4 linked regions of the Homo sapiens genome follow. The protein of the gene in region 3 interacts with the protein of the main gene of each other region in a biochemical or structural test. Each region holds a gene or a part of one and is shown on either strand. Other genes may lie near its edges.

Region 1 (7,977 bases), on a different chromosome or scaffold from region 3:
CAGGGCCAAAGGGAGACAGCCAGGGACTTGGGAGGAAGAGTGCCTGTGTTAGGGATCTGACTCCAAAAGTGACCTCAGGCAAGGTATTATCCACTCCAAGACTCAGTTTTCCCATCTGCAAAATGGGATAACAATGGCCCCAGGGACTTTTATAGTGAGTGGGGATTGAATGGTCCGGCTAGCACAGGGGCCAGGTGAGTGGGTAGCCACTGACCAGGACTGAGAGATCATCTAGCTTGAAGATGTCATCGGGGACTCCGGAATTCTTCAGACTGTTGGCTCGGGCCACGATGGCCTGGGAATAAACCATAAGAGTCTATAATTCCTGGCTTCCACTCTCAGGAAGGAACAGAGTCTAGAGAGGGACACCTCCTCAGGCAGCTCACCAGAGGCCAGGCCTGAGGACTCTCTCACCTCTGGCCTTTGATCAAATAGCTCCCTCTCCTGGAGCGCTCTTCCTAGCCTCCCAGTGAGCTCCTATTCATGCCTCAAAGCCCAGCTCAAATGTGCCCCGGAGCCCCAGCACAGGGCCCTCAGGGAACCTTTTCTGTTCAAACCATTTCTCTTCTTCTTAATTCCAGAAGGTGAGATAGGGGTAAGGTCTGAGTCAGGGTTTTCAGAACAGAGGGAGAGAAGTGGACCACAGAGAAATCAGAATCTGGATGGAGAGGAAGTCTGCTTTCTCTCCCTAACTTAAGACTGACACCTCCTCATACCTTACAGACATGCAGAAAGCTTGAGCATGAGGGAACAGGGCCAGAGAATGGTGTCGTGACTCCAAGTGACAACGGGAGTCACCGGAGCTGCCCCGCCACTTCTCCAGTCTGAATGCCTGTGCGGCACCCTGCTGCTGCTTCACGGGGTCACTGCTGCCCCTCCCAACCACTGCACTTGCAGAGGAGGCCCAGAAGGTAGAAGCGATTTGTACAAAGTCACATCACCAGGAAGTGGCAAAGCCCAGCTTTGAACTCAGAGAGTCCAAGTCAGAAGCTGTGCCCTAAACATCTCCAGGGCTCTGACTTCAGATGGGATGGCCCTCGTTGAGGCCTACAGGGTCTGGCCAAGGGCCTGATGTTCTGGGACGTTCAAGTCTTGGGTAGAAGGTACACGGTGCTCCCGGCCAAACCCCACTCAACACCAGCTCTACCACTGCCTGGCTCTGTGACCTGGGGCAAGTAATCTGCCTTGGTGGCCAAGTTTCTCTTCTGCAACATTAGTGGAGGGCTAGAGCATATGAAAAAATCCTAACAGAATAGTGGGAACATTGCTCAGCCAGTCTTGGCTATTATTACTGTAGTTATTGTCCATAACGGCTGGTAAGATTTTGGATTTCTTTACCTTTTTCCTGATGGAATTCTCTGATCCACATGGGTTACTTTACACAGGGCACTGCTGTAACCTCTAATGAGAGGGCCCCTCTGTGACACCTGAGCCTCTGAGCCTGACACGGAGGTGGGCAGAAATGCTGGCCCAGCTTGGTGTCTAGCCCAGGCTTCACGTCCCTGACCGGACCTTGGCCCCAACCCCAAGCTCGGTGGCCTCCCGGCCAGCACTCACGCGCAGCGATGGCAGGCTGGACAGCTCCCCATGAAGCGTGGTCAGGTTGTTGTGGCTCACAGACAAGTGTTCCTGGGCCGGAATGGGGAGCACAGGCTCAGCAGGGTGGGTGGGGTGTCCAGAGTCCCTGCCTGCCTCCACAACTCTGCACCATCCAGGAAGGCCTCAGCCACACTGGCCCAACTACCCCTGCAGCTTCCCTCCCTCACTCACCCGGCCTCTTCTTGCACACCTCCCTGGACAGGGTGCCCACTCCCTTTCTTCCAGCTCTGCTCATAGCTGTCGGTGTTCCTCTCTCTGGAGAAGTTGTCTGCCTTCTCCACAGGCTCTGCCCACCTGGCTCATCCACAGGGACCCTCCCCTGCCCGCCCAAACCCCCTTACCAGCTTCTGCAGGGCGGCCAGCTCCTCGGGCAGGTAGCAGAGGCCAGTGCGGTTCAGCTTCAGCCACCGCAGGCTGGTCATGGCCTTGACATTCTCAGGGAAGTAGCCGCCCTGGGGGAAGGATGTCAAGGTGAAGCACAGAGCCCCTGCTCACCACCTTCTATGGCTCCTCCAGCCCATGGGAGCCTTTGGGGAGCCACAGAACCAACTCTCACCATCTGTGAGAACACAGACAAGTCATTTCATCATTGTGCCTCAATTTCTTCACCCATAGAATGGGAATTTTAAGCCCCCCCGTGACAAAAGTGTTGGCCTAAGATTTGTCTCTCCTACTGGATTCTGGGCCCCAGGAGGGCCAGGACAAAACTGGCTTGTTTCAGGTGAAAGCCCAGCATCCGGCTCTGTGGTTAGCTCGGCTCAAATTCCTTCACCTAGCATTCCACACTCTGACTGGCTGCCTGGGGTGGGGGATCCCCCTTCCAAGCCTTTGCAAAGGCGCCACCTGTGCCCTCATCCTGCCATCAGCACACTGGCAACTCACGGCCAGGGTCAAACCCTTGCTTGCGGAGACCGTGGCTCCCCACCCTGCAGGGCAGGCCAGCATCACTGCACTCCCCTGGTGTGTGAACGCCCACCTCGGCACCTCCAGCCCTTGTGGCACCAAGTCTGGGGCAGTAGGTGCCTTCAGTGCCTGCGGCTGATATTCCTTTCCCCCTAGCGCCACATTCCCAGCTGGTGACTCGGACTCTCCCAGTTCAGCAAAGAGGAACGGGGACCCCAGGTTAGGGTGGTGGGGATGGGGTCAGGGAAAAGTGGTGTAGCCACTTGTACTTGGGGTCAAAGGTGTGTACACAGGCAGGTAAACGCAGGAAAAACCTGCCTCCTCGGCCCCAGCCCCAGACCAACAACCCAGGCCGACCCTGCCAGTCACCCACCCTGAAGGTGAGGCTGACCCTCCAGCCAGCTCTCCCTCCCTCTCTTTCTCTGCTTCCCCTTTGGTCAGGCAATGCCTGTCTCATTCTTGAGTCCTGGAACCACCCCGCCGCCCCACCCACTGGCTGCGGAGGGCTGGGCTCCGGTCCCTTTTCTCTCAGTCCAGCAGCTGCTCAGACAACTGCCACCCAGCACCTGGCACACCGGCCTGACACACTCTCCACACCAACAAATCTCACTATACTCCTTGCGTCCAAGGAGGAGACTTTTAAGCCCCTTCACCGGCTGAGAAAGCCTAGGCTCTGAGAGGGGAAGTGATCTGAGAGGCCCAGGATCACACAGTATGGCGGGTGGCGGTGGCGGGGAGAGGGCAGTGATGAGTCGGCTCCACACCCGCCCCTGGGCAGCCGGGCAGCCATCCCTGAGTCAGGGCCTGGCTTGGGCGTGTGACCTCAGAGGGGCGGGGAGGCTCGCCCGATCCCCAGGCCACCATCCAGCCTAGACCGAGAACACGGACGCGGGGTGGGGGCTCCCGGCCGGGCCCCCGGCGGGACTCCGAGCCCAAGCGTCCGTCCCCGGCCTGCCCAGCCTCGGTCTCCCCGTACAGGCACTGGGCGGAGGCCTCGGAGGTCCATTCCTGGCCAGGGGAGAGCCCCACCCCGCCCCGGCCGCAGTCCCTGGGACACGCAGGGCCTGGAGCCGAGCGGGACAGGAAGCGGAGGCCAAGCGGGCCGGGCGGAAGAGAAGGCCTGCAGGGAGGCCCGGCACGCGCCCGGCCCGGCTCACCTTGAAGTCGTTGCCGCTGAGGTCCACGCCACGCACGAACGGCAGCACCCCGGTGGCCTCCATGGCGCCGCTCTCGCTGCCGGGCCGCGCCGGGCTAGGGAGCGCCGGGGCGAGGGCGCTGGGGGGAGCCGCGGGCTGGGCCAGCGCCGGCCCCGCCCCTTTAACCCGCCCGCGCCCGCCGCATTCCGCGGGGAAGTGTAGGCTTTAGGCCTCTTAGGGCCTCAGTTTCCCCGTCTGTTCGAAGACTGCGGAGGCACCAAGGAGTGCGGGCCCCCCCTGTGCTGGAGTTGGAGGCTTCCACGATCTCCAGGCTTAAGTCCCAGCGCCCCAGGGCAGGGGCCGTAACGGCCGCTGGTCGAGGCACCGTCACCTGCGCTGCTGCAGCACATGAAGCTGGCCCTGACCTCAGAGAGATTCTAAACCTCGGCCCCGGGGCGCAGAGGCCCAGGAAGTGCCTGTACTTGGCTGACCGGTGGTAGTGAGACACCTGGATCCTCGGGTCCTAGCTCTCCTGCTTCTGGACTTAGTTTCCTCATGTGTTGTTTTTGTTTTGTTGAGACAGGGTCTTCTTGCTCTGCTGCCCAGGCTGGAGTGCAGTGGTGTGATCATAGCTCACTGCAGCCTCGAACTCCTGGGCTCAGCCTCCCGACTACCTGGGATTATAGGCGCAGGCCACCACACCTGGCTAAATTTATTTATTTTATTTATTTTTTATTTTTTTTGAGACAGAGTCTCGCTCTGTCGCCCAGGCTGGAGTGCAGTGGCGCAGTCTCGGCTCACTGCAACCTCCGCCTCCCGGGTTCACGCCATTCTCCTGCCTCAGCCTCCCGGGTAGCTGGGACTACAGGCACCCGCCACTACGCCCGGCTAATTTTTTTTTTTTTTTTTTTTGTATTTTTAGTAGAGACGGGGTTTCACCGTGTTAGCCAGGATGGTCTCGATCTTCTGACCTCGTGATCCAACCGCCTCGGCCTCCCAAAGTGCTGGGATTACAGGCGTGAGCCACCGCGCCCGGCCTTATTTATACTTTTTGTAGACACGGGGTGCTTGCTATGTTGCCCAGGCTGGTCTTGATCTCCTGGCCTCAAGTGATCCTCTGGTATCAGCTTCTCAGAGTGTTGGGATGACAGGCGTGAGCCACCGCGCCCTACCCAGTTTCCTCATTTGTAAAATACTTTCTAAGGTTGTCACCATGAGCAAATTAACAAAGAATGCACGTGTAGCTCGCAGCATACAGCAGGCGCTCAGTGAGTGGCAGGTTATTATTCCGTTTTGTTTTGTTTTGTGCGCCAGGTTATTATTCCCACTTAGTGTCAGCACCCCTGTGCTCGTACCCCCCTACAAAGGGAGGCTCCAGAAGAGAAGCATCCGTCTTGGTCCTTGCTGTTCAAGGGGGCTCGCCCTGGCTGACACATAGCAGGACCCCAATAAATGAGCCACAGCTGTTATATGCCCAACCATCCTTCGCAGGGGAGGAGGGGGTCTAGTGTCCCCATTTTACAGGAGAAAAACTGATGCCCAGGTGGAGAATGGCCCACACAAGCTCGCACAGAGCAGGTGGCAGGGGTAGGCGCTGTGCCCCTCAGGCCCACAGGTAAGAATGAGGCCACCAAGACACTCTCTCGCAGAGGTGACCTAAGAGGTTGGATGTGCCGGGCCTCTAGCCATGTGCAGCCTCTCTACCTGGTCCCCAGAAGGAACGGGGCCCAGACAGCTTCCTCCACACCGGAGGCTCACATTACAACGCACAGACGTCCTGGAGGGTCGCCTGTCACGTCACCTGTTCGCGGTCTCGGAATGCAGCCCTGCACCTTTAAATCCAGACTGCGTCAGGGAGTCCCGCCCCAGAGGGAGTGCGGCTGTCGGCTGGGGGGCGGGACCTGCCCTTCATTGGCTGAACCGCGCAGTATTTTGGCACCTGTGCGCTGGACTCGAGCGCTCCGATTGGAGTTAGGGCCTGCTTGTCTGCGTGCTGCGAAGTCCGCGGCTGCCCCCGGGGCCCTAGTCGTTGGGTTCCAGGGTCCTTCACGTTCCATTCCCAGGCTGGTCTGAGCTCCGGGGCCGTGGTCCCGCTGCCTCCTCCGGTCGTCGTGCGGAAGCTGCGACGCAGGTACAGCTGGAGCGCGGCGGGGCGGCCCCCAGGGTCACCGGGCTCGGGGCTTGGCGCGCGACGGAACGCAGATCGGGGGCGTGGCCCGCGATCACCGCTGGGGAAGGCGGGGAGGGGACCTTTGGGGGACCAAGGGCAGCGTTCGAATCCTAGCCCAGCCCCCTTCCCCTCTCGGTCTCTTGGTTTATCCTGCGAACGGGGCGTCACCCGCCCACCTAGGGCTGCTGCGCGGCCTGCTCCGCCCGGGCCCAGGGCAGGCAGGTTTGGCGGAGGAGGGAAGGCCAAACGGCCTCCAGGGCCCCGCTGCGCAAACTTGGGTTATTTTCAGCCACCCGTGCCCTTTCCTGCTTCTCGGAGCTGGAAGGCTGTGGACTGAGGCCTGCGCGACCCCGCCAGAGATGGGGCTGAGTCCCAATTTAGACAGGTTGGGAGTATTTAAAGCGCTTTACAGTTTGCAAAGTAGATTCCTGGTCTCTCTGGGGGCGGGTGGCAGTATTGATCCCCGAGTCACCGATGAGGAGATTGAAACCGGCCCTGGGGCCGTGGCGGGTCACCCGGTTGGCCTGGGATCGCCCCAGAGACCGTCTTATTTTTAGTCTGGGGCGAATGGGCGGGTGTACGGGGCTGAGTCACACAGCGCTTCAGGCTTCAGCTACTCCAGGCATCTGGTCACCTGGCAACTGGGCCCCTGGCACCCACACTCTGGCAGGGCAGGTAGAAGTCCTTGGTGCCCGGGCAGGCTGTGACCTCATGGTCATCTGCTCAGGCCTCCCCGGGAGAGTTCTGCTTGGTGTCTAACTGATGTCCTAAGGTCCCAGCCCTTCTCAGCTCCCAGGGCCTGAGGGCAGTGTCCCCCTCGCAGAACGTGAGGAATGTGGACTGGGCCCTAGGAGATCTTTGCCTCCACTTCCCAAGTGCTGGCCCCCACCCAGCCACACACTTCAAGGCTGCCCACATCTGCCCCTCACTGCTGCCTATGCCATCTTACAGGTGAGCAAACAGGCTGGGGCCCAGGCCTTCACCTTACTTTCTGTGTTGCTTGGCCTTCCGGCAGTTGAGAAGCATCACCCACCACTACCTACACATTGTCCCAAGACTGAGAGGCCCAGAGAGCCCCCTGTACAGAGGCACTGGGCAGCCCTTTCTGCCCTGCCAAAGGGGCTTCAACCCTGACAAGCACATCTGCATTGGCCTGCCTGGGCAGCTTGGGCCGTCTTACTCTGCCCGTGCTCTGACTTGGTAGCTCTGCCTCTTGGGCTACCCTGTCAAGATTTGGGGGTAACTGGTCCCAGTGGTCCCCCAGACTGGCTGGGGCCCCAAATTGTTGGTCTTCTCTGGACTTTGGGCTCTTCTGAAGAGGTTATCATAGAGGGCTGCTGTGCCCTCTGGGTAGGAACCTTCAGATGAGGCTGCTGCTGAGGACCTGGGCACCTGGCACAGGGAGAATCCGTCAGACTCTGTGGGCGGATGAGAGTCTGGAGGCCTTGCAGTCATGGGTTGGAGACCTTACCACTCACTTGTGAGCTGGCAGCCTGTAGCTCTGTAACATAGGGGTAGTGATGATGACACCCTGGTGATGTCAGAGGTCCTGGAGGGTGGGCTCCAGGGAGAGAGGCCCCTTCCTATACCTGCACAAGCCTCAGGGCCTTTGTGAGCTTCTTTCCAGGCAGCTTTGGGAGAAGGGGCTTGGCAGCTCCCTCATCTCCTCATGAGAGATGGGGGCTTGGGACCCCAAAACCCAAGCTCATATCCCATCCCTGCCCTTTCTCAGGTACTTTACGTGATTTCCCAGGGCCTCGGTGTCCTCCCCTGTGGATGGGTGGCCCCTTTCTCTGAGAAATTCTCAGAAAGCCCCCCTCATGGGCTCAGCTCTGTTACCCAGCATAAGGACAGCTAGAGCACCTGTCCACAGCAGCCCCTCTCCCAGCCTGGCCACCTGCACCTGAGCTGCCCCTTCACCCCTGGCTCTCTTACAGGCAGACCATGGCAGAGTTCTCCCAGAAACGGGGGAAGCGGCGTAGCGACGAAGGGCTGGGCAGCATGGTGGACTTCCTCCTGGCCAATGCCCGCCTGGTGCTGGGCGTGGGCGGGGCTGCTGTGCTGGGCATTGCCACCCTGGCCGTGAAGCGGGTAAGGCCAAGTGGGCGGGTCATGCCTGAAGCTCCTAGAGGAGGACAACAGGGTTGGGCTTTTCAGAGGGGCCCTGGG
Region 2 (8,072 bases), on a different chromosome or scaffold from region 3:
TGCCTTTCCCACCCTCCACCTGTGGAGGAGCTGTGCCCACAGGGGCACCATGCGGCCGCAGCCCCAGCCCTGACCTCTCCCATCTCCCTGTCCTTCACTGCCCTCCAGAGCGGCACTACCCCTCACTTTGCTACCAGGAGCCGCCACATGCCTGGAGCCCCGAGCCTGGACCTGAGCACCCAGCCACGCAGCCTCCCTTGAGACACTGCAGCCACACCCGGTAGCCCTCTGACCAAGGCAGTGGGCAAAATGCACACAGTCCTTCAGGGTCCCTGCTCATGCAAATCAGAAGCAGTGAAGACGGGACAGAAAGAACCAAGGGGAGGGAAAGCGGGGCAGCCTGGATTTACGCACAGCCACAGTCTCAGGGCAGCTCCCTCTCCCAGCACACTGGGAAGCATGACAGACGGCAAAGCCGTGGCACAGTGTCCATCAGACCGCTCGAGTCATCCTCAGGGCCAGGGGCCTCGGCTCGGCCTCGATACGAATCACACTGTGGCCAAGGCGCAATCTGGACATGCCATAGCAGCTGAGCCACCATCACGAGCCGGGCTCTGCATACCGGGTAGGGACGCTGGCCCTTCAGGTCCCTAACAAGCGCAGCATGCCCTGGGGGCTGACAGTGTCCGTGGGAAGCATCACGGTGCTTCTGAGCTTTCAAGAGTCTAATCTCTGTAAACTATGACACAGTCCCTGCAAGGACAAAGGCAGACGAGAGCTTGTTCTCAAACTGTACTAAGGTCCTTCGGGGAGACGTCCACCACACCACGACCTGCTGCAGAGACACCCTGAGCAGGTGCAGGAGCTTCAGAAAGTCCTGCAGGTGCATCCAAGGCCCGGTCAGCAGCAGGCCCCGGGCAGGGGACATACCCTACTCCTCATTCCTCCCAAGACCTGCCAGCAGAGAGGGCTGTGTGTCCTCAGAGCCAGCGGGGGAGGAGGAAGAGGAAAGCTGAGTCTCTGCGGGAGAGACACTCACTCAGCAGATGACAAAGGACTCACTGAGGTGATGGGGTCATGACAGTGAAGCTGGGATCTCAACCGATGCTCACTCAACACCCCAGAGCCATGGAACACAGGACATCACTGCAAATCACTCTTGTCCACTGCAGGCACATTGGCAGTGTGACGAGCAGGAGAGAGCACATCCACCAATCAGACCCTTCACCCCACACCCACGAGAGCACCGAGGAACCAGGAGAAGGATACGTGAAACAAGAGAAGAGGCCCTCCGCAGCTCCCACGTGCCTCAGCTCTGGCCTCCGCTTAACCAGAAGAATTCTGAAAACAGAACTTCGTCAGAACGCAGCCCGCGTGTGCTGAAGCTGGCACGCTGACATGGAAAGACACTCTTCTTCAGGGAGGGACCGCGGGAAGCACTGCACATGGTTGGTTGTGAACTCCGAAGCCCAAAAGGTCAACATCCCCACCAGCTTGGGAGGTGAGTTGGATGCTCCCACACCAGGCCCCATCCTGCCCGGGCCACCATGCCGGGCAGGGGTGGGATGGCCCAGCCCGGCTGCTACCCTCGGATGGCAGCGGGCATGCACGTAACGGCTCTGCAGGTCAGCTGCTGCCCCAGCCAGCAACCGAGCTACGCTGGGCTGTGCTGCACACTCAGGGGCAAAGGAAAGCAAGCTGCTTCAGGGCAGGCACTCGAAAGGCGAGAAGACACAGGCACCCCAGTGACATCTCCTTTGATGCATCCTTCTGACCTGGAGAGCCAAGGGGCGGATTCCAACACAGAGCCCTTGAGCTGGCAAACAAGTGTTCTCCAAAGAATGGGGACTGTGACCACCTATGAGGATTTTTTCAGTGCAAAATCTGATGTAAATTTTATAGTAGAGGGGGTTTTAATATGCCAGAACCTCCCAATGGTTTTCTTTATGGCTCACTTTAAAGGTCCAAAAGGTCAGAGGGCCACCCACATCCTGCAAGCAAGGAGGCACAGTTGGCATCACTAATTAAGATACACCCCGCTTGTGTGGACCCACAGGCCATCTTCCCCTCCTTGTCCACAGCCCCCAGAGGTGGAATGGGGGTCAGCCTCCTTAGAACACTCTAACCCCTGAGCTTACGGGGCTCGGACATGAGTCCTGGGGGTGGGTAAGTCCTCAATAGCCAGCTGGGATTAGCCCCAGGCCACAGGGAGGACTGAGGCTCAGGGGCCCTTGGCCACGCTCTGCTGACCTGCTGGGGGCCCACTTTCTGCCACTTGACTTACATGGCACGGTGCCAGCCAGCAAGGCCCCTGCAGATGGGCCAGGCTGGGCTCAGCCTCAGACCCGGAATTCTGGTGTGTAAACCGGTGGCACTGGGGGTGCCAGCTCGGGTCCCCCAGCGGGTCCCCTCCAGCACGGTTTCTACACAGACTCCTGGCAGGCTTCAGTCCTGACAGCTACTCTACAGAATCCTGGACCTAGGCACAGAGGAAGCTCTCGCCAGCACTGCTAGAAGGAAGGAACCCCCTCCCTTCTGGATGCGGCCCGTCTCAGAGCCACAGGACTGGGACCCCCGGCGTGTGAGCCACCTTCTTCACCTTGCCCTTGTTTTGGAAGCTGCCCTTGCTTTTCATGCAGAAGTCCCCACAACAGCACCACCAAGCATGTGCCCCAAGGAGGGCCTAGCCGCGCCATGGACCACCTGGAGGCCTCCTTGGGATGCATCTGAATGGGCCTGCCTCCACAAAGTTAGAACAAGAGAGATCAGGTCCATCACCCAGCTGGAGCCAGGCACCAGTGCACAAAATAGAAAGAACAGAAGCAAACTCTCCATTAAATGCAAGAAGACTACACATACATGAAAACGCAAGGAAGTCCTTTGTGCAGACCACACCTCCACCCCACCCAGGCAGCCTGCCAGTTGGCCCGGCTCATCACTGGCTCACGCACTCTGGCCTCAGAGACCTCAGTCACCAGGCCACCATCTGGCCACAATGCCCTTTTCACAATGCAGCCCCGAAACTCTGGCTCTGGCTAAAAAGGACCACACCCCATTCCCACCCACCCAGCCTCCCCTTCCTCCTCCTCATCTGGGCCTGGCTCCTGCACCACGGCTCTCCCTACCAAGCAAGCCCTCCAGCCACAGCCCTGGTTCTCAGGATGGTGACCCGTGTGCACCTGCCTGTTTAGCTCCTTTTTCTCCTCTGTCCCTACCAACACCAAAGCCTCTTGTGGGCAGAGGCCAGTTTTCCTGATCAAGCCTGGGGTCATGGGGCTGGCCACTGCGTCTGGCACAGAGAATGTGTTCAACTGAGTCTCATCTCATGTAAAACCTAGTACTTGGGCTGGGGTGTAAAATGAGTATTTGCAAAATAATAACTAATCAATTAGAAATATTCAGGGAACATGGCCCCCAAGGACCACCCCCCCTCCACCCCCAACCCCACCACCAGGGAGGCCAGTGGAGATACCACAGAAACTTCTCTTCCTCAGTTTAAAAAAGAACCGCTCCAGCAAATAGCAACACATAAACCAGATGATGGGCCATTCCCAAGGGAAAATGCAATTCCATCACCGCTTGAACAATACTCCCACTTGGAATGCTGGTTCAGACTTTCAGGTCCTAAGAACTGATTTATTGTTTCAAGCTTAAACATCAATCCAGCAAAAGCACTTGACTCACACAGACGGAGTACTTCATAAACAACAGTAAACTCACAAAGCCCAACACTCACATTTTTAAACAGAGCAGACTCCAAAATGTTTATGTACACAAACATATTAATGTATCATATTAAAATTATGACGCTAAATAAGAAGTGATTAAATAATGTCATTAATTCTAATTTAAAACAAGCAGAGAAAAACTTCTTCATAAAAGCACCACTCGCCTCCTCACACGCCGGGGCCCTGGGCGAAGCGGCTGGAGAACAAGCTGCACACACCTGCCTTGGCCTTGGCACAACAGTCGCATTTGCCACTCGACAGCTGTGTTGAAGGCCCTTCTCCCTCCCATTCCTTTCTGCATCACAGAATTCCCTCCACTTGCATTTATGACATCTCCTTAGGAGCATGTAATCTCCAAAATCAGGACCAAGAAGTTCCCAGATGGGGGCAGGGGGTGTCAGGAAACAGGCAATTCCAGAGCACTGGCAAGAACCCCGCAGAGGGGCCAGGCCAGAGGTGGGGCCTCACCCCAGCTCTCCCACCCAAGGCCCGCATTGTGCCATTCACTGGGCTACCTACTCATCCATTCATTCATTCACTCATTCATTTTCTTTCATTCTTCGAGCACCTACACTGCCAAGCACAGGGTACAGAGCAGGCATGAGGCCCTCAGGGCCCCTCAATCCTACAGAGCCCCAGCTAGTAGAAAAGGTGGCATTAAACAACTAAGGTCACAATGAGCTCCTTCCTGAAATTGCACAATGGGATGCTGTTAGAAAGGAGGAAAAAAGCTATTAGGCTAAGTTTAACAGGGGATCAAAGGATGAGAGGATGAGCATGAACTGAGGGGCTGGAGAAGAGGAAGGTAAAGGGAGGCCATTCCAAGGAAGGGGAACAGTGTGTGCAAAGGCCCCGAGGTCAAAGGGGACTTAGAGAGAGCTAGAAAGTAAAGCAGGTGGCAGCTGAAACTCCACAAACACAGCAAGTGCTATCAGATGAGGCTGGTAAAACAGAGGCCAGGATCAGGCAGGCCTTCCAGGGCCCTGAGACCTTAGGATCCTAAGAATACAGGAAAGTCATGCCAGGGTTTCAAGCAAGGGAATGAGAGGTACAAACCTGCTTCTGGTGGAAACCTGGGAGACTGTTTGTAGGATGGGCTGTAGCAGAGCCCGCTCAGACCCCGAGGGTCAGTCCCCACCTTGAAGAGCTTACATGTGAGTTAGAAAAACAAATGCCCCTAAATTCTTCTATTGCAAAGCATATTTATCAACTTGCCAAGGACTTAAAGAGTACTTTTCTTTCCAATGAAGATATCTAAATGTTTTCAAATTACTACTGTAAAAAAGTAATACACGCTTACCAAAAGAATCTCTACAATACCACCATGTATAAAAGAAAAGTGTACCCCGTCTCCTCACCTCTGATGGTTACCTTAGAGACCCATGTACTTAAAACCAGGAGTGGCCCGGGGACTGCTCCAGACCCCGCCTTTCCCTCTTACACTGCACACTTCTGCCTGTCTACACATGGAGGATGCCACAGTGCAGAAATGCCAGCAGGTTTAACAAGTACTCCTTTTATAAATAATGCAGCCCCGACCTCCACACACGTCTGGATATCTACACACTTATCTTCTTTCCTTAGAATAGATTTCAAAATGTAGAACTGTGGGGACAAGGAGAATGGCATTTAAGATTTTGACACTTAAGACTTTTCTAGAGAGCAATTCGGTAATCACTATTTTATGTTTATACATTACATATATAAACTTTTTTGGGGGGGACAGCCCAGGGTCTCGCTGTGTCACTCAGGCTGAAGTGCAGTGGCAAAATCACACCTCACTGCAACCTTGACTTTCCAGGCTCACGTGATTCTCCTGCCACAGCCTCCCAAGTAATGGGGACTACAGGCACACGACGTCATGCCTGATTTTTTTTTTTTTTTTGTAGAGATGAGGGTCTCACTATGTTGCCCAGGCTGGTCTTGAACTCCTGGGCTCAAGTGATCCTCTCACCTTGGCCTCCCAAAGTTCTGGGATTACAGGCATAAGGTACCTCGCCCAGCCCTATTATATTTTATATAATAATACATATGGGTCTCTCCAGAGAGCAAATGATAATAAATAACAGCCAACATTTATATCATGCTTACTACATGCCAGGCCCTATTCAAGGAAATTTCCATACATTAACTTAAACTTTGCAAAAACCTTACAAAATAGAAATTATTATTATGACCAGCAACAGGTATCATCAAACTCGCCAATATGATAGGCATAAAGGGAATCTCCTTCACACTGAATTGATTAGTAATGCTAACCTTTCATCACTGGCACAATGATTCAATGTTCATACGTTCTGCTCATCTTGCAATGGTGATCTCATGCTCTCCTTATTGGTCTGTAAAAGCTCTTTATATATTGACTGTTAAGCTTACACAGGCATAATGTGGTATGTATTTTCTCTCTCGTCTCTTAGCCCGGCTGACGGAGTCTTTTGCCAAAGAGATTTTTTAAAAAACTCTTATCCTATTAAATCTGTCAAGATTTTCTTTAAGGTTTCTGGGTTGGTATTGAAAGAGTAGATTAACTTGGTCCTCAAATGCTTTCTTCCAATAAAATCTTCCAAGGTAATCAACAGACCGAACAACAAACACTAAAAGCTGCTCCGGCTGAAGTGGACTTGGAGCATTAGCTCCCTTCCGTCACCCCCACCTGCCTCCAGGCGTCCTGGGGACTTTGCAGGAGAAGAACATGATGTCTTCTAGTTCTGCAGTCCCACACGTGACATAAGACAGCATGAGAAAGCCAGAAGTACTGCCCAGACCTATGAAACGCGCCTGTAACAGCGCCAAGAACAGTCAACACAGCACTAGAAAGTCTAACGACACTGAACTAGAAAGGTATTCCAAATCGTCCTCTTCTCTAAGAGGCTGTGTTCGCCCAAGCACCTCGACAAGCTGAACTTCAGCTTCAAGGTCACCACCAGCCTAGAAGCAGAGGCACGGAGAGGAACTGGCCTTTGGGACTGGAGATGCAGGGGGTGGCACATGGTCCATTTCATTCTACCCCCAGTTCCTCCAGAGGTAGAGCCCACCTGCAGGACTGTGCTGACACCTACATGGTGAGTGCATGAAACAGCACGAGCCCCAAGCAGGTGCTCATCTGGCGTCAGCTACGGGAGCACGTGACAGCTGCTCGTGGCATCATCTCCTTGCTCCAGGATACATCCTCATCCCCCGACAGTGATACAGGAAGTCACGGTGGGGGCAATCTATGCAGGACCCCGACCTTCCTTCCAGGAAGTGAGTAGGAGGTGTGTCAGCAAGGCCACAGCAAGGGGACATGTAGGACCCTGACCCTCCTTCTAGGAAGTGAGTAGGAGGTTTGTCAGTGAGGCTGCAGCAAGGGGACATGGCCATTTAATGCTGCAGGCACCATGGCCCTCATGCCACCCCAAAACAGGTCCCACTCTTCCCACGCACAGAAGCCCAAGAGAAGAAAACTGACCGTATGAAGAGAACTTACTGACCTTAGTGACACTTGTTCCCACAGAAACGCTTATGAATGAGTTAAGGTCTGTTCAAAGGTAGCATCACTTTTGACATGGCACCCCTCATCTGACCTGAACCAGAAGGTGCAGTACCCGCCTCTAACGTCAAGGCCAAAAACCCAGAGCCCACCACACGGCAGGGCATATGCTGACCACCTGAAATCAAAACAAACACTCCCTCCAAATCCATCCTTTCCGACTCCTTACCCCAGGACAGACTGGGGGCTGCCAACAACAGGGCAGGGGCTCAGTCTCGGTTCCACAGCCCCAAGCTTAGGTGGAGACTGGGCCCCTTCGCCCTTCAGTTCCCCCATCCCCAGCTAGTCATCAATTCTGAGCCTCGGAGGAAAGCCCGGCCACAGCCTGTCGCCCCGCTGCCTCTCAGCAACGGCAGTTCTCTCGGCCTCTGCGGCTCCTTCGCGCCCTACATCAGGTATTAATATATTACTCATGGCAGCTTCTGAGCTATGAAAGCCCAGCCGTTTTCAATAGAGAATGGTATGGATGAATTCTACAGGAGTGATGAAATGTTTCTTCTGCTCCGGCAATTAAGACAGCATAAAGTCGCCTTTCCTTTGGTGCCACCCCCAACATTAAAGGATTGGAATTCAAAGCCATTCATGCTGCATTGAAACCTCACAATGAAGCTGGAGAATGGAAGTCGATTACTGGGCATAAATATGCAGTAGTTAAAAGGAAAGAGTTATAACAAAATTAAACTGCAGCAACCCCACAATGTGTGGAAACTTCCAGCACTAGAGTCCTCCTGGTAAACATCCATAGGGCATTCTTCTCAACGAGGTCTCTGGCCACAGAGTCCAGATGGGCTGCCTGAGCCGCACGTGGCCAGCGTGCCAGGTTGTCCTGTCCATCTTGCTACAGCAACAGCCCCCAAGGCCTCCGAGAATATGGC
Region 3 (7,165 bases):
GAGGAACAAAGACAGGAGGCATGTACAAAACGATAATAACGTGAAAAATGTAAATCTAAACATATCCATCATTCTATTAAATGTAGATGCTCAGACAGGGCAACAATAATTGTGATAAAAATAGCTAATGTGGATTGAGTGCTGACTATGTGTGGTACTATCCTGGGCACTTCACATGTCCAGTCTTGTAATCTTCACAGTACTGCTATAGGGTAAGTGCTATTCTTGTTTCTATTTTAGAAATGAGGAAACCATTGAAAACAGGGATTGAAGAACTTGCCAAGGGAATGCTTGGACAAGAAAATGAATTAGTTTCCTGAAATCCATGTGACTCAAACAATGAGAAGACCCTCAACCCATCCTAATAAAGAAATGAGTCCAACGTGCAGTTTCGGAAGACTCTGGAGAGGGAGAAGCAGTGTCAGCCACGGTCCTTCCATACTCTCCATGAGCGAACCATGTGGTCTTCATAAAAGAACCCTTCCAGGCAGATGCACTGTCATCTCTCTTTACAAGTCAAGAAACTGAGGCCCAGGGAACTCAACTTGCCCAAGGTGATGCAAAAAAAAAAAAAAAAAAAAAGGTAGAATGAAGATTCAAACAGTAATCTAGCTGCAGAGCCTGTGTGAATATTATGTTGCATCTCAGTAAGTCCTATACCCACCCCCTCCCAATTCATCAGTTAAATCTGAGAAAATGGGTAAAGGAAGCACGCAGGTAGCTCCAAAAAGGGAAGGGAGTCCTGAAATGGAAACCTGGGGTGGGGGTGGACCAATTGTTCCTGCTTTACCTTCAGAATGAGGGAGAGGTTTTTAAGCTAATTATATCATTTCAGATCACTCATTCTTCCATTCACTCATTCATTCATAAATAACCACTCTCAAGCATCCTTCTTCTCCCTCACAGGGAAGGATTTGGGCCAGGCATTAAAAAACAGCAACTATGTTTAATGAGCACCTCAGTTAGTCCTCACCACCATCGTGTGAATTAGGTGTTATTACTTATCATCATATTGTTGATAAGGAAGCCGAAACTCTGAAAAATCAACTGCCAATGATCATAAAATTTGTAAGTGGTGAAGCCAAGAATTGAGGCCAGTTCTGCCTGACCACAGTGTCCACACACTTCCTGATACACCTGGGGGTGTTGGGCAGAGGGAGTGAGGTGAGGAGAGGCTTTAGCATTCAGACTCACTGTGTGTGACAGATCGTTTAACCACTTTGATTTTAGAGGATCAGTGGTGAACTGCTAGCAAGAAGTGGAGCTTACAAAAAACAAACTCGTTGTCTTTAGTTTAATTCTTTATTTGAACATCAAATAGGTTGAGAAAATTGTTTACAGGTGCTCGAGCATCCCGCTGGATTCTTTTTCAAAGTGCAAAAGAGGTTTACAAGTGTGTTTCATTAAACAAAGCAAAGCTGCGACAAAACCGAGTCACATCAGTAATAGTATGCATCGGCAAAAGGGCATATTAATCCATCAAACACAATTTGGCATTTGAGCCTTTTCCCATAAAACAAGAGCTCTACACTGAAGAGTATGTAGTGCACAAAAAGCATTGTTTATCACCTGTGAGAGAACAGAAACTGGCATAATGTCACTTATTAATTCAAGTCTCTATAACCAATGACCTCTCTGTGAATGCAAAGGGGTCTGTGTCTCAGGCACCTGCTCATGGGACAATATGTTGTTTCTAGGGTGCACAGCTCTAAACACACACACTGACGATGGGTTTGGAACATGGCAGCATTTACATATTTTAAAAGTTCAGGCACAATTGGATGCAAAAAAAAGAATAGAAATTTTTCTTGAATCTCAAAAGACAGTGCAAAATTGAAGTGCCATAATAGAGGCAGCAATTACTTAGAAAACAATTTTAAATGACTAAAAACGAGGCCACACTTTAATTCAATTGGAAAGGAAATGCAGTTGGAAACAGAGCATAATTAACGCTACTGAAAAGATGGATATTTGGGACCAAAGTTCATTTGCTCCAGTTGAGAGTAAGTTTTCAGGGGATTAACTTGGGAATGGTGCAGTGTAATCTAGATCACGCTCCCAAGACCTGCACCAAAGAGAATTATGGTTGCCTTTTGAGCTACTGTATGACTCTATTTGCCTTTCACATAACTAGCTTCCCCAAGCAGATCTGCCTGTGAATATTAGACATTACTATGGTGTTAGTGATCACTCCCAGTACCCACAGTCCATCTCATAATTGGAAAGTATGAATAGGAAAGTATTTGTAATCAGTGTCATGCAGGGGAAGGAGTACTCTAAGCCAGTGGCCTAAATCAATGGCCATTTCAGTGTATAAGATTTCAAGGTGAGAACACCTTAATGTGATCAAAAGTAAATTATCAGTAAGTCCCTTATTTGTTCAGCCCTCAAAAGGCATGGGCTATGGCTTGGTTAAACATATCTGCAAGGTTACTAGGGAAATCAAATCAAAGACTGCACTTCCTTAGGGGTTAGATTTTGCAACCTACATTGATAGGGTCTTCTCTTTGGATGACCTAGCCTCTCATAATTGCTGCATGATGGCATTATAGAATCATTACGGCAAGCTAGGCAATGGCGAAAAGAAACACAGACCACTAGCTATTCCATGGACTTTACTGCTGATGTTGTTCTTTCTTCTCTAGAACTGAAGCTGCCATTTTAGAAATGGCTGTAAATGGAGCTAGTTGATTTGTGGTCTCCAGGGCAGAAGTGGACTCTACTGAACCCTGGTGCACACCCAGAATTAACCATTTTCCTCCAAATACTTTCAATACTCTTCTTAATATATTTGCCATTCCCCAGATTCCTGAATCCACTTCCCCACCATACCTGAGCCCCCCAGATAAATCACATCTTTTACATTTTAACTTGCCTCAGAGTGGGGGAAAGCAGAGGCAAGAGTTTTTTTTTAAATCATGTTCCTACACCCAATACCAACATCAGCCAGAAAATATCTGCTGTCCATTAGTGGCACTTCAAGTAAAAATACAAAGAGATTTCCAAAGTTGCTGGAGACCCCTGGGCGAACATTTCAATCATCTGATGTTCTCTGCCCACTTCAAATGTAGTAGTATCTTAACATGAATAGAAACACATTGGATGAATAATGTAAAACCTTCCACTGTATAATTGTTTGGCTTTAGCTGGTATTACATCGTCTAGTCCTAGAAATTTTTTTTTGTTTTATTTTAATTTTTTTAAAAGAAAATCTAAGTATAAACATTAAAAAGAACCCACTGACCCATTAGCTACTGTCCAAAAATATTACTACTGATATTTTGGTAAAAGCAAAATTAGCTGCCCTGAATAATTTTCCTTTTCAGGCATAATCTTTGCTACATAAGATTGTCTGTCATTCAGTATCCAACAATAGGCATCTGGATTAGTGCTATTTTGTCTACTGTGGATACAAAAGTTGATATGAAATGTGATCTTCATTTAAATGAATAATCACCAGGCTTTAGGCATAAATGACTGTATACATGACAAGGTAGCTTGAAAAGTATACAAAAAAAAAAAAAAAAACTAAATATTTTTCCTTGGTTTTTGCATGTTAACCCAGTCAAATTAAATCCAGAACAGAATTACTACATTCAATTGTCTGATAAACAAGCAATGTAATTTCAAAAAAATATATATTATACTATATAAGGTGCTTCTTAAACAAACTAAGGTGCTTCTTAAACAAACAGCAACAAAAGAATTATGTTCTTAAACATATCCTTAACACAGATACATAAAATTGTCCCCAAATTTAAGTGCACATAAAAACTTTTTTTTTTTTTTTGCCCTCCCAGATTCTCAGTCCTTTGGTGATCACTTAACTGGACAATCAGAAATGAATGAAATCCACTTTTCCAAACAAGACATACCAAGAGAAGCCCGAGCAGCTCACCTGGGTCATTGGCTAACACAGACATCACCTCTCAATAGGGTTTCAATTACAGACAATAAGGTCACCCAGAGGAAATCAAACATTCTTTTTTGTTAAGAAAAAGGAAGTAACCCATAATTGTGCTAGAGAAGCAAAGGCCCAGGGAAGGCTGCCCTGTGGCTGGAATGAGCCTTTCTTTTTTAGCCTATAGGTCAAAGGAAATTGAAGGAAATGAGCTGGCAGGAGTGGAGGCGGTAGGGAACGGGGCGGGGGAGGAAGGGGGAGGATTTTCTTCCCCAAACCAAACCCTGATTTTGGATTATCTCTAAACCACCAAGGGCATACGTAATCTGACCAGGCCCCAGTCAGCCTGAGTAGTGACAGCAACGGTCCCCACCCTTCTCCCGTGCCCCAGGGTGCTGGGCCAATTGTAGGAACACAGCTGTCTACAGCAGCTGTGACAGCTGCTTCTTCCAACCAGGGCCACGCTGGGAAATGAAGAAGAGCTGGACTACCCCAGGGATCCCAGGGCACCCCCAAAGGGCAATGCGGGGTCTGCAAGGAATGTTCCTAGGTAGCTGCAGCCTGTGGCAGGGCCACCCTGAGCAAGTCTGGCTGTGCCTCAGAACTGTATCCAGTTTCTGCCCTACTTTCCCTCTTGTTCTCTAGTAGCCACAACAATCCTGCACAAGTACTGTTCAGCTCCATGCCCCAGGGCTAAATGCAACACCAGGGCCCCTGCTCCTTTCAACTACCATTTACCCTCATCATGCATCACCACAGTGAACAGTTCACCCCTGTGTAAGGCACACACACGCCGGGAAGATCCAAGTACAGTGCCCACTGGAACAGGTCCTGAAGCTGACCTTACTGCAAGTTCAGGGAGGGAGGGCTTTCTTTTGTAACACAAAAATAAAAACAAAAATCAGGAACTTATCCCTCATATAGGGAGACTTAACTAAGATCAACTTGCTGCTCTCCATAGGTCCATGGGAGGCATGAATTAACTGGAACCCATGACCGGAAAGCCAGAGGCAGAGCTTTCAGCACATCTGAATCTGCAGTGTATCAAGTTAAAATAGTCTTGCCAACTAGGGGATCTGCCTTCCCTGTGTGCCCCTTGTATTCCTATAGGGGGAATGAATTGACAATCACCAGATACTCTGCTACAGTCATATAAAAGCTTTAAGGTGTACCACTTTCATAAAAGGATGCATTGCCATAGGAATACAAGAGGGTGCTATAATAAACCCTTGACCTAGCTTTCTCCAAGTCACCAATTAAAGGAGCCACTTTAAATTCTTTGCTGTGGCTTATTCTTAGAGCCATTTAAAAAGTGCTTATCAGAGGCAAAATGTCTACTCTCCAGGCCTGGGTCTCTACAAGTAGCTTAAATGCACAGAGTTATCTGAGCCCCAACCCATAGACTGAGTTCAGCTGTGAAGAGCTACGGGAATCCTCACGCTTAGTAACATAGCAAGGGGGAAAGAGAGCTGTTACAAAGATTTAGCCTTGGAATCCCTTTGGCTGTTCCCAACAGAAGACAGAAGATGTGCCACTAAGAACTGAGCAAGCAAATGAATGGCCACTCATCTAGAAAGCCATTGGTGTTGGATGCATGCCGGAGTGTATGCAGGAGACAGAATTTGGCTAAAGTGGTGCATGATGAGGGTAAAATGCAGCAGGGATTATCTGAACCGTGTGGGAGCCAGGGAGCTCTCAGACCGTGGCAGGGAAACCCTCTGCCTCCCCCGTGATGTAATACTTTTGCAAGGAATGCGATGAAGTAGAGCCCGCAGTGGCCAAGTGGCTTTGGTCCGTCTCCTCCACGGATGCCCCTCCACGGCTAGTGGGCGCATGTAGGCGGTGGGCGTCCAGCATCTCCAGCAGCAGGTCATAGAGGGGCACCACGTTCTTGCACTTCATGCTGTACAGATGCTCCATGCCTTTGTTACTGTAGGTGGGAAGACACAGAAAGGACTACTTTAGAGCCAACCCGAGCCCCAGGAGTGCTGAAATCCCTAGAAGGGGAAGGAAGAGGAACTCCAAAGACACTTAGCAATCTTTCTTTCTTCCTGTTTAAAGACCCACTTTAGGATGGGAGCTGGGAAAGCTGAGGGCTTTCAGAAGCCCTAATCTGGAACTCATGGCCGTGTGTTTTTCATTTTCCACCTCCTACCAGGGCGGTCCCACCCTCACACTCTCCCTGCAGCCACTTTCAGGGTATTTGCTATGCAGGTGACTTCCATGGACCTCCGTGGCCTCAAATGAGATCCTATTCCCCTCCAATAGGACCTAAATGCATTCAAATAGGATCGCCAAAGCTTCTAAAAAGACAACATGAGATATTCAGCCAAGCAGGAGTGGGTATTTTAAATGAGTAAAGCAGTTCAAGACGCTCCATTGTTAAATCTCTCACGTCACTTCCCATTTAACTCAGAATACGATCTAAATGCCTTTCCATGTTCAACAAGGCCCAACTGGTCCAGCTTCCATCCATGTCTCCAAGCTCTTCCTGCCTCTCTCCCCTAATGTGCTCTCCGGAGCCACACTGATTTTTGTGCTGCCCTTAAAGGAACTAAGCTCCCCCAAGACTTAGGGGACCTACACTTGCTGTTCCTACTTGCTGGGATGAACCTTCCTCCGGTCTTCAAATGCCGCCTCCTCGGAAAGGCCTACCGCTACCCAGTGGCAGCAGCCTCAAGCCTCTGCAGGCTCAGCCTTCCTCTTTCACACCGTTCTGTTTTTCTCAGCACTCTTATCACTGCCTGAAATTCTCCTTTTTATTTATTTGTGTTTATTCTCCCGCCTCCAAACACACACGTGCACACACTCACACCCTCAGTGCGAATTCCTAGAGAAGCAGGCTTTATCCTGTCCCCTGCTAGGCCTAAAACAGTGCCCAGAGCTCAGTTCACGTTCAGGAAAACAAGGGGGGAAATGGGCAGCGGGAAATGGGCAGAGGGAAATGTAGGCAAATGGCATTCTCCTTTCCCTACTCTCCTCCTCTGCTCTCCTCCACTAGCCACAACTCTGCTGCCCCACCACACTACTGGTGGCGGGGGTGGGGAGGAGAACAACTATTATCTAGTTTGAAATTTCTTTTAAAAGAAATATGTATCATGAGTAGCAGGACCAAGAGAAGGTCTTAGAAAAATTTGCATTTTTAGTAGGGGAAAATTCAGCTCAAGTTGGAGACTTGCCATGAAAACACAACATCAAAGCTATTCAGGGCCTACAGCATGATCTAAATTACTTGTTTAAGTGTTACTTTTTTTTTTTTTCATT
Region 4 (8,072 bases), on a different chromosome or scaffold from region 3:
ACGGGGTTTCCCCCATGTTTGCCAGGCTGGTCTCAAACTCCTGGCTTCCGGTGATCTGCCCGCCTCGGGCGTTTTTGCATGTATTTTTTCAGGTGCTGAAAAAGCTCTCCCTGATTTCATTTCTTGTTGACTGCTTAGAGACATCTTTCCAAATGTCCTTCCTTGTCACTTTTTCAAAGTTAGGAGCAGGGATTGCACGTTTTTTTGATTGGTAATTTTTGTTTCAAAGGTTTGATTCAGATTCAGAGTTGATTTTGCTAGGTATGGTGGCTCACGCCTGTAATCCCAGCACTTTGGGAGGCCGAGGCGGGCGGATCACCAGAGGTCAGGAGTTTGAGACCAGCCTGGCCAACATGGCAAAACCCTTATCTCTACTAAAAATACAAACATTAGCCAGGTGTAGTGGTGTGCACCTGTAACCCCAGCTACTCAGGAGGCTGAGGCAGGAGAATCACTTGAACCCAGGAAGCGGAGGTTGCAGTGAACTGAGACTGCGCCACTGCACTCCAGCCTCAGTGACAGAGCAAGACTGTTTAAACAAACAAACAAAAAATTAACAAAATCTTATTTCTAGTGGTTTACATATTAATGATGCTGGCAACTTTTAGTTGAAATGTATTAAACAGCCTCGCAGTTTTTATTTTTATGAATTCTGCATACAATAAATAAATACCAACCAAAATATCTATACAGGCATACCCCAGAGATACTGCCGGTTCAGTTTCAGACCATGGCAAATAAAGTGATTATGGCAGTAAAGTGAGTCACACAAATTTTTTTGTTTCCCAGTGCTTATAAAAGTTACGTTTACATTATACTGTAGTCAAGTGTGTAACAGCATTGTCTAAAAATAAGTACATTATCTTAATTTAAAATCATTGCTAAAAATGCTAATGAAGTGAGCACATTTTGTTGGAAAAATGGTGCTGGTAGACCTGCTTGATGCAGGGTTGCCACCAAAAAAACTCAGTATCTGCAAAGTGCAATAAAGTGAGATACGCCTGTAATGTCTTTTTTCTCTTCTGTTATTACAAGCACTACTTTAAGTCTTCAACTACCGAATACTTGTAGACTATTTAATGAATTAATATTTTCATCATATTTATATTGAGAAAATTAAGAAGCTGAATTTAGTTAGAAAAGGTTTAGAATATCATCAACTCTTGAGGATGAGTTGGAAGCTACTTTATCTGTCATTTTTCACATAACACTAGTTTGCCCTTCAAATCATACATTTAAAAATGATCTTAAGATACATACCAAGTAGGGATTATGTTGTTATAAAAAGCTAGAAGTAAAATTAAGACTTTAATTTCAAAGATAATTTCTCTATAAAGAATAGCACAAGATATGTTCAACTATTCTCAGAGATGCATCAAGATATGACTTTTTTTCCTACTAGAAATTATATCTATGATCAATCATATTACAGAGATATTGCTGTTATACTCCTTGTGACTGATGAGGGGGGTTTTTCCTATCACCATGTTATCCCAACCCTTTAATGAATCACCTTTGAAACTCAGAACAGGTAGCAGCACAGAGGTTGCTAAGAGTAAATACATTCACCACTGCTGCCAGAAATGACCAACGGTGCACCAGAAAGAAGAAATACTGGTGAATTCCCACATACCACGACGAACAACCTTATAAAATAACAGAACAAATGAATATAAAGTAACATACAGCCATCCCTTGGTATATGTGACAGGGATTGGTTCCAGGACCACGTGTGTATACCAAAATCCATGCACGCTCAAGTTCTGCAGTTGGCCCTGTGAAACTGGCATGTATGAAAGTCAGCCCTCTGTATATGCAGGTTCTGAGTCCCACCAATACTGAATCTGCTCTTAGTTGAGAAAAAAAATCTGCATGTCAGAGGGCCCATGAAGTTCACAGCTGTGTTGTTCAAGGGTCAACTGTAATATAAAAATAACATTTATTGCTAGATAGAGTTGATATTCATTCTAGTGTTTATATACTTGAGTCTTAGAGCAATAGCCTTTGGAGACAACTTCCAGGAAGGTACGTGTTTGCATGCCTTCTCACTGCAATCCATCAGTAGCTGCCACTTGAACCAGTCTTAGCAGGGGATGGGGAAGCCTATGTCTTTCAGAATTGGATGATGTAGTACACAGAAGTAGACAGTAGAGTAGTAAGGGCATTTGCTTAAAAGCAGATAGAACTGGGAACCTCTACATCTTTCTGTGAGAATTCAGGGCTTAGTTTTTTAGGGTGTAAAATGGAAATACTAGTATGTATCTGGACATATTATCTTAAGAATTAAATAAAAGACTACCATTTCACTCAAAAAGTGCTTGATCCTGGGAAGCCATGTAACAGTTCACAAATGCAGAGTTCAAAAGAAAGGAAAAATTGCAGACATGGTAGCCTTATTTTAATTATCTTCTAACCAGCAGTAAGCATACTCTAACCAGTGAGGAATACTAGATAATCCATACGCCAAATGCAGGAGATTACATGAGACTTATATATAACAACACTTCATTCATGAAATAAATCACAAGATTAGCTCTGAAAAATGGTGATTATATTACAAATACAAATCTAAGTATATAGATGACAATTTGTGAGTTTGCTTATTTGGGAATTAGTACCTAGAGATAAAGGTCTGAAGCAAAATCACACACCCCTTTGGTGAATCAAATCTTCCTCTGAAGAACTAAGTACCTCACCTAATCAGAACAGAGTCCCTGGTATAGCCACCGTCATATTCTGTAGTTTCTTCTAGTGCTTGGAAATCTAGATTCTGCAAATTCAAGAAAATATGTCTTAGTTATCTGCTATACTACTGTATCATTACAAACAATAAATCGATACATGACTTTTTGCAGACACCTGCTTTCTTACCCGGCTTCCACATATAAGCAATTCAATTTCTTCTGGTCTGAATAAGTACTTTAAGGGAGATTCATTGGTCACCATATGAAAACCTCTCCGAAAAGCCTTGAACTGTTTTTCTACTGATTTATTGAGAATGTAGTCAGAATAAAGATTGACAAATTCCTGTAGAAAACATTAATCACAAGAACTTCTTATAATATGCTATGCAAACAAAACACAAGTTATTGGGCTGCATAGCTTTTTAATTTTTCCAAGAAAAAAACATTCAAGAATATTCTTAAAAATTCAATTTTACACCTACTTCTTAACAATTTCACAATTCTCTGTTATAGCCAATATTAAGCTATGAAAAGGCCATATACATAAAACTGTCAAGAATATTCTTAAAAATTCAATTTTACACCTACAAAGAAAACTACTTCTTACAATTTCACAATTCTCTGTTACAGCCAATATTAAGCTATGAAAAGGCCATATACACAAAACTGTCATACTTATAAATGTCAATTTCGATAATGTATTAAACAGAACTGAATATAAATGCTGGAGACGCAGAAAATTCTTTAGGTTCTCTCAACTAGGTATGTAAACAGACACATTTAAACCATGTATCCATCTATTTATAAATGCCAACCGTTTTAAGAGAGTACAATATATTTGATTTAAGCAAACCAGGAAGTCCCAAGTTTTCTACCATAGAATATTTGGTAAGCTGCCTACTGTATCCAGTTCAGCAAAAATGTGGAAGTACTGACTGACACATAAACTACTGTATCAAATCATAAAAGGAAAATGTGCTTTGTACCCTTAGTGTGTATAATATTTAATCAAAAAATTATATCAATATAAACATGTTTCTTAAAGGTATACTATATATTTGTCATAATTTTTTGCTTGTTATGTTCTGGGTTATTCCCATTCCCGATGAACACATTTTAGTCAATAGAAACCCAAATCTGACGTAAAGTATACTTTTCAGAAATGTATTTTTATCACAAACAGGATATACATGTGTAAATTAAATGTAATTTTTATTTGTTCTGTGATAAAGACCTTAATCATGAGGTTCCTGCTTACAGCTTAATACAAGAAACACCCTGCTTCTTGCTTTATACTACAACCACACTTAGCTATTAACTATCTCCTGCTTCATGTCCTCTTTCTCTAAAAGGGGCTTTAGTGCCCAACTGTGTGCTTTCATACCAACTTATATCCAAGATTTAGAAAAGTGGACTCTAGCATTTACATAAACTTAGTTACTTGTTTTTTTTTTGTACAGACTATATTAGATACTTCTTTAAAAATTATAAGCATACATGCTTTGAAAGTGTTAATGAAGAGACAAAATGTGACATAAAAACATTTATTACCTTCCTGTTTTCATTTGTAATTGGAATTTTATCACCATTTTCCTTTAGATCATACATCATTGGGTTACCAAAAAGATCTGTCTGTGATATCTGGAAAGTGATCATCATGTCATCTTCCACATTCCCTTCATACTCCAATAAATCTTTTAAACTCTGATATAGAACCTAGCAACCAGAAATGGTAAATTGAGGCCACCATAGAACTACAAAATACAACAAATAATTTATATCACTCTTCTTAGAAGACAACAAAAATCTTATCAATAAAAATTGTAAAAAGTGTAGACAGTATCCCTCCAGTCCCCCAAATAGTTTCCAACCTATAAAAGAAAGATTGTCAGTCACTGTGATGTCCCATTCTCTGCTGAGAAACCCCATACCACCAATTTAGCAATAGAATTCACACTGTGCTCTATGAGAAATTCTGTGGTGTCTCAAGGTGGGGGTGGGGGTGGTAGGAGCAGGCACACTCGTTGTAACTACCAAGACCCTTAGCCAGGGCTACTCTGATTTTTACCTATCTCTTAAGATTTCACTAAAACACAAACAAAATGTTTAGAAACACTTCTCTATGAAATCAATCTTACAAAAGCTTCGTGCTGACAGCAATATATAAAAATGTCCCCCTTTGAGTTTTTAAGTGTTTCTGGTACTTCGGTCAGATTAAAACATTTTTATCTTATTGATAAGAGTATCAACAAAGATTCTAAACAAAAACTTTAAAATTTTGACATAAATTAAATTTTTGCATTTAAATAAAATCTAAGAGACTGAATTAAAAAAATGACAAAGAACTTACTGGGTGAGAGTCTCCCAAGTCACGAAAAGTTCCTTTTTTCCCCATTAGCTTCCTGTAGACAACCATGGGAAAATGTACATCCAGTATACAGTTATTGTAAATAGCCAGACCCAGTACTATGCCAATCAGAGTAAACTGACCCTCAGTTTCAAAAGAAGATGGATTAAACCAAAACAATTTTGTAGATTCATCGTATGTGAACATACCTATAAGAAATGATTTTTAAAAATACATTACTTTTGTATTTTATTAAGGACTGATGAATAATACAAATATAAACTTAAAATAATTATGCATATAAAACATTTAAAATATATGTAATTAGGCATGCAACATTGATTTCTATTATATTAGCACTTGAGAAAACAATGTCCACATATATCTGCTATAAATTGGGGTGAATGGTGATATGTAATTTTATGAAGCCAAAGGAATAAAGTAGTAAGTAATTTGGTGGCATCGGGTAGAAAAATACGTTAATTAAATTCAAGCTTTCTAATTTTCTACTAACACATAAGAAAAGTTATATTCATGCTTTATCCACCCATAGCTGAAAAATAAACATAAAAAAACAAAAAATGGCTACATTTCCAAAGTGTTTCATTTATAAAAATATAATTACTTATATCTGTACCACACGTACTATTTTTGAAAACAATTTTTCATTTTTTTCCTTGAGATGGAGTCTCGCTCTGTTACCCAGGGTGGGCTGGAGTGGCACGATCTCAGCTCACTGCAACCTCTGCCTCCTAGGTTCAAACAATTCTCCTGCCTCAGCCTCCTGAGTAGCTAGGACTACAGGTGTGCACCACCACGCCAGCTAATTTTTGTATTTTTAGTAGAGAAGGGGTTTCACCATGTTTGCCAGGATGGTCTCAACCTCTTGACCTCGTGATCTGCCAGCCTCAGCCTCCCAAAGTGCTGGGATTACAGGCGTGAGCCACCACACCTGGCCTAAAAAACAATTTTTAATCACAGTAAAGAAAGGTTCGTTTTTTCAAAATTAGACAATGGTGCCATGAAATTTTTCTAGCATTTTCCTAATAAAATCAGATGATCTGAAATACATAAACCTGGATAAATCTGATGAACTTAGATAAACAAAGCTATTCAATACACATGTTAATTATGGGCCAATACGTAAAAGAAAAGTAGTTTCGTAGTCTTTCAATTTCACATGGTCTTCACTATGCAAGCCCCAATCATGGAGGCTTTTTTTTTTTTTTTTTTTTTTGAGACGGTCTCGCTCTGTCGCCCAAGCTGGAGTGCAGCAGCACTCAGCTTAGTGCAAGCTCCGCCTCCCGGGTTCATGCCATTCTCTGGCCTCAGCCTCCGGAGTAGTTGGGACTACAGGCGCCTGCGTGGAGGCCTTTTTTATATCACTCATTGGAAAATTGGGGCCCGGTGTGGTAGTTCACACCTGTAATCCCAGCACTTTGGGGAGGCTGAGGCAGGCAGATCACTTGAGCTCAGGAGTTCAAGACCAGCCTGGGCAAGATGGAGAAACCCCATCTCTACAAAAACACAAAAAATAAGCTGGGTGTGGTAGCATGTGCCTATAGTCTCAGCTACTTGAGAGGGTGATGCATGGGGATGGTTTGAGTCTTCAGCCTGGGAGGTGGAGGTTGCAGTGAGCCGAGACAGAACCACTACACTCCAGCCTGGGCCTCAGAGCCAGATCCTGCCTCCCTCCACCAAAAAATAAAAGATTAAAAAAAAGGAAAATTGGAATCTTTGGAATGAGTACTACTAAAAATTGATTTCTTCCCTTTTAAATGACTAAGGAAAAAAATTTTAATTGAATTTAAATCATTTTACTACATGTTTAGTTGCTACTGTGAAACAATGAAAACATCTTAAGAATTAAGTCTGAAAAAAATCTGTAATTTCCAATAGAAAAGTAGAGCTTAGAAATCAGAAATCAAATTATACAGTATATAAGTATTTTAACCTGTTTATAAGAATTTTAAAATCTTTGAAAATGTCATTGTCACTTTAAGTTTAAAAATAAGGAGCTTTAACATGTTTCCTTGATCACTAGGAGTATGAATTAAGCTTAGGACATTTTCTGAATGCAAAATGGTTTGAAAATTAAACAATTCATATTTGAGTTTCATGGTTTCTATCTAAACATTTTTTTTACAGGCCAAGTTACAACATCCATGGAAATGCTTTTAGTTATAAGTATGGTATTAACAGGATCAAGAACAGCTGACAAATAATTACAATTAATAAATTTGTTCAAGCTGACAATGGTGTGTCTAAAAAATTAATGAATTTAATAAAATGTCACAAATGCCCTTCCTTGGAACCAAGAGCAACAAGCTATAAGTTAATCAGAATATAACTCTGAAGTTCCATTTTAGGCACATTTTCTCATGTTCCAGGGAGAAAAGCACCATAACCTCCTGGTAAAATACTCCTTTTTGATACTTCTACTGCCATCACTTCAGTTATCTTACTGGAACTGCTTAATCTATGTTTTTTCTTACAAGTATTTCTGCATATAATGCAAGTATGCTTTATAGCTAAGGTTTAACATTTCTAGATACATCAAAAGCTAGAGCTAAGGTTTACCAAATTTAAGAACTTTATGAAGTTTATAATTTTCTATCTCAAAAAGGGCGTCGTCTTATGTATCTCTGATTTACTTAGAACAAACTACATACAAATGGCATAGCTTTTTAGTTATTAATAAAACACTAGCTAGATTATAGATAAGGGATGCGTGTGTGTGTGTGTGTGTGTGTGTGTGTGTGTGTGTGTGTGTGTGACTAAGAACAGTAACAGAAAGGTCAACTCAATTAGAATCAACAGGCTATAACAGCTCAAATCTCAAAGCTGAAGGGAAATGACATACATTATTCTATGCACACTCCTCACAATTCTGATGGTACCTTCAGTGGAAACCTTTTCCTGTAATTGTCATGTACTCAATTTTAAACGTAAGCAAGCTCAGTTACTAAGTGGTTATATTTACAGTAGAAACTGAACCAGTTCAGAATTATGAAGTTAAGTAGACTACCCAAAAGACTGCA

The links.
Region 1: the proteins of ESR1 (region 3) and FLII form a complex in vitro, tested with the Homo sapiens proteins (2 studies listed by BioGRID).
Region 2: the proteins of ESR1 (region 3) and HDAC4 form a complex in vitro, tested with the Homo sapiens proteins (2 studies listed by BioGRID).
Region 4: the proteins of ESR1 (region 3) and UBE3A form a complex in vitro, tested with the Homo sapiens proteins (2 studies listed by BioGRID, with this or other methods).

Annotation. Positions count from the first base shown.
Region 1 is NC_000017.11:18,254,969-18,262,945, forward strand, and holds the start of FLII (protein flightless-1 homolog), read right to left. Parts: upstream 3,771-7,977; 5' UTR 3,723-3,770; coding exon 3,660-3,722; exon of another isoform or gene 3,509-3,659; coding exon of another isoform or gene 3,479-3,508; intron 2,052-3,478; coding exon 1,941-2,051; intron 1,630-1,940; coding exon 1,558-1,629; intron 296-1,557; coding exon 215-295; intron 1-214. Other genes in the region: MIEF2 (mitochondrial dynamics protein MID49), read left to right, coding at 6,168-6,193, 7,746-7,899. UniProt on the Homo sapiens protein: Is a regulator of actin polymerization, required for proper myofibril organization and regulation of the length of sarcomeric thin filaments. It also plays a role in the assembly of cardiomyocyte cell adhesion complexes.
Region 2 is NC_000002.12:239,390,603-239,398,674, forward strand, and holds part of HDAC4 (histone deacetylase 4), read right to left. Parts: intron 1-8,072. UniProt on the Homo sapiens protein: Responsible for the deacetylation of lysine residues on the N-terminal part of the core histones (H2A, H2B, H3 and H4).
Region 3 is NC_000006.12:152,097,398-152,104,562, reverse strand, and holds the end of ESR1 (estrogen receptor), read right to left. Parts: intron 5,832-7,165; coding exon 5,597-5,831; 3' UTR 1,289-5,596; downstream 1-1,288.
Region 4 is NC_000015.10:25,351,657-25,359,728, forward strand, and holds part of UBE3A (ubiquitin-protein ligase E3A), read right to left. Parts: intron 5,241-8,072; coding exon 5,035-5,240; intron 4,401-5,034; coding exon 4,236-4,400; intron 3,028-4,235; coding exon 2,872-3,027; intron 2,771-2,871; coding exon 2,697-2,770; intron 1-2,696. UniProt on the Homo sapiens protein: E3 ubiquitin-protein ligase which accepts ubiquitin from an E2 ubiquitin-conjugating enzyme in the form of a thioester and transfers it to its substrates.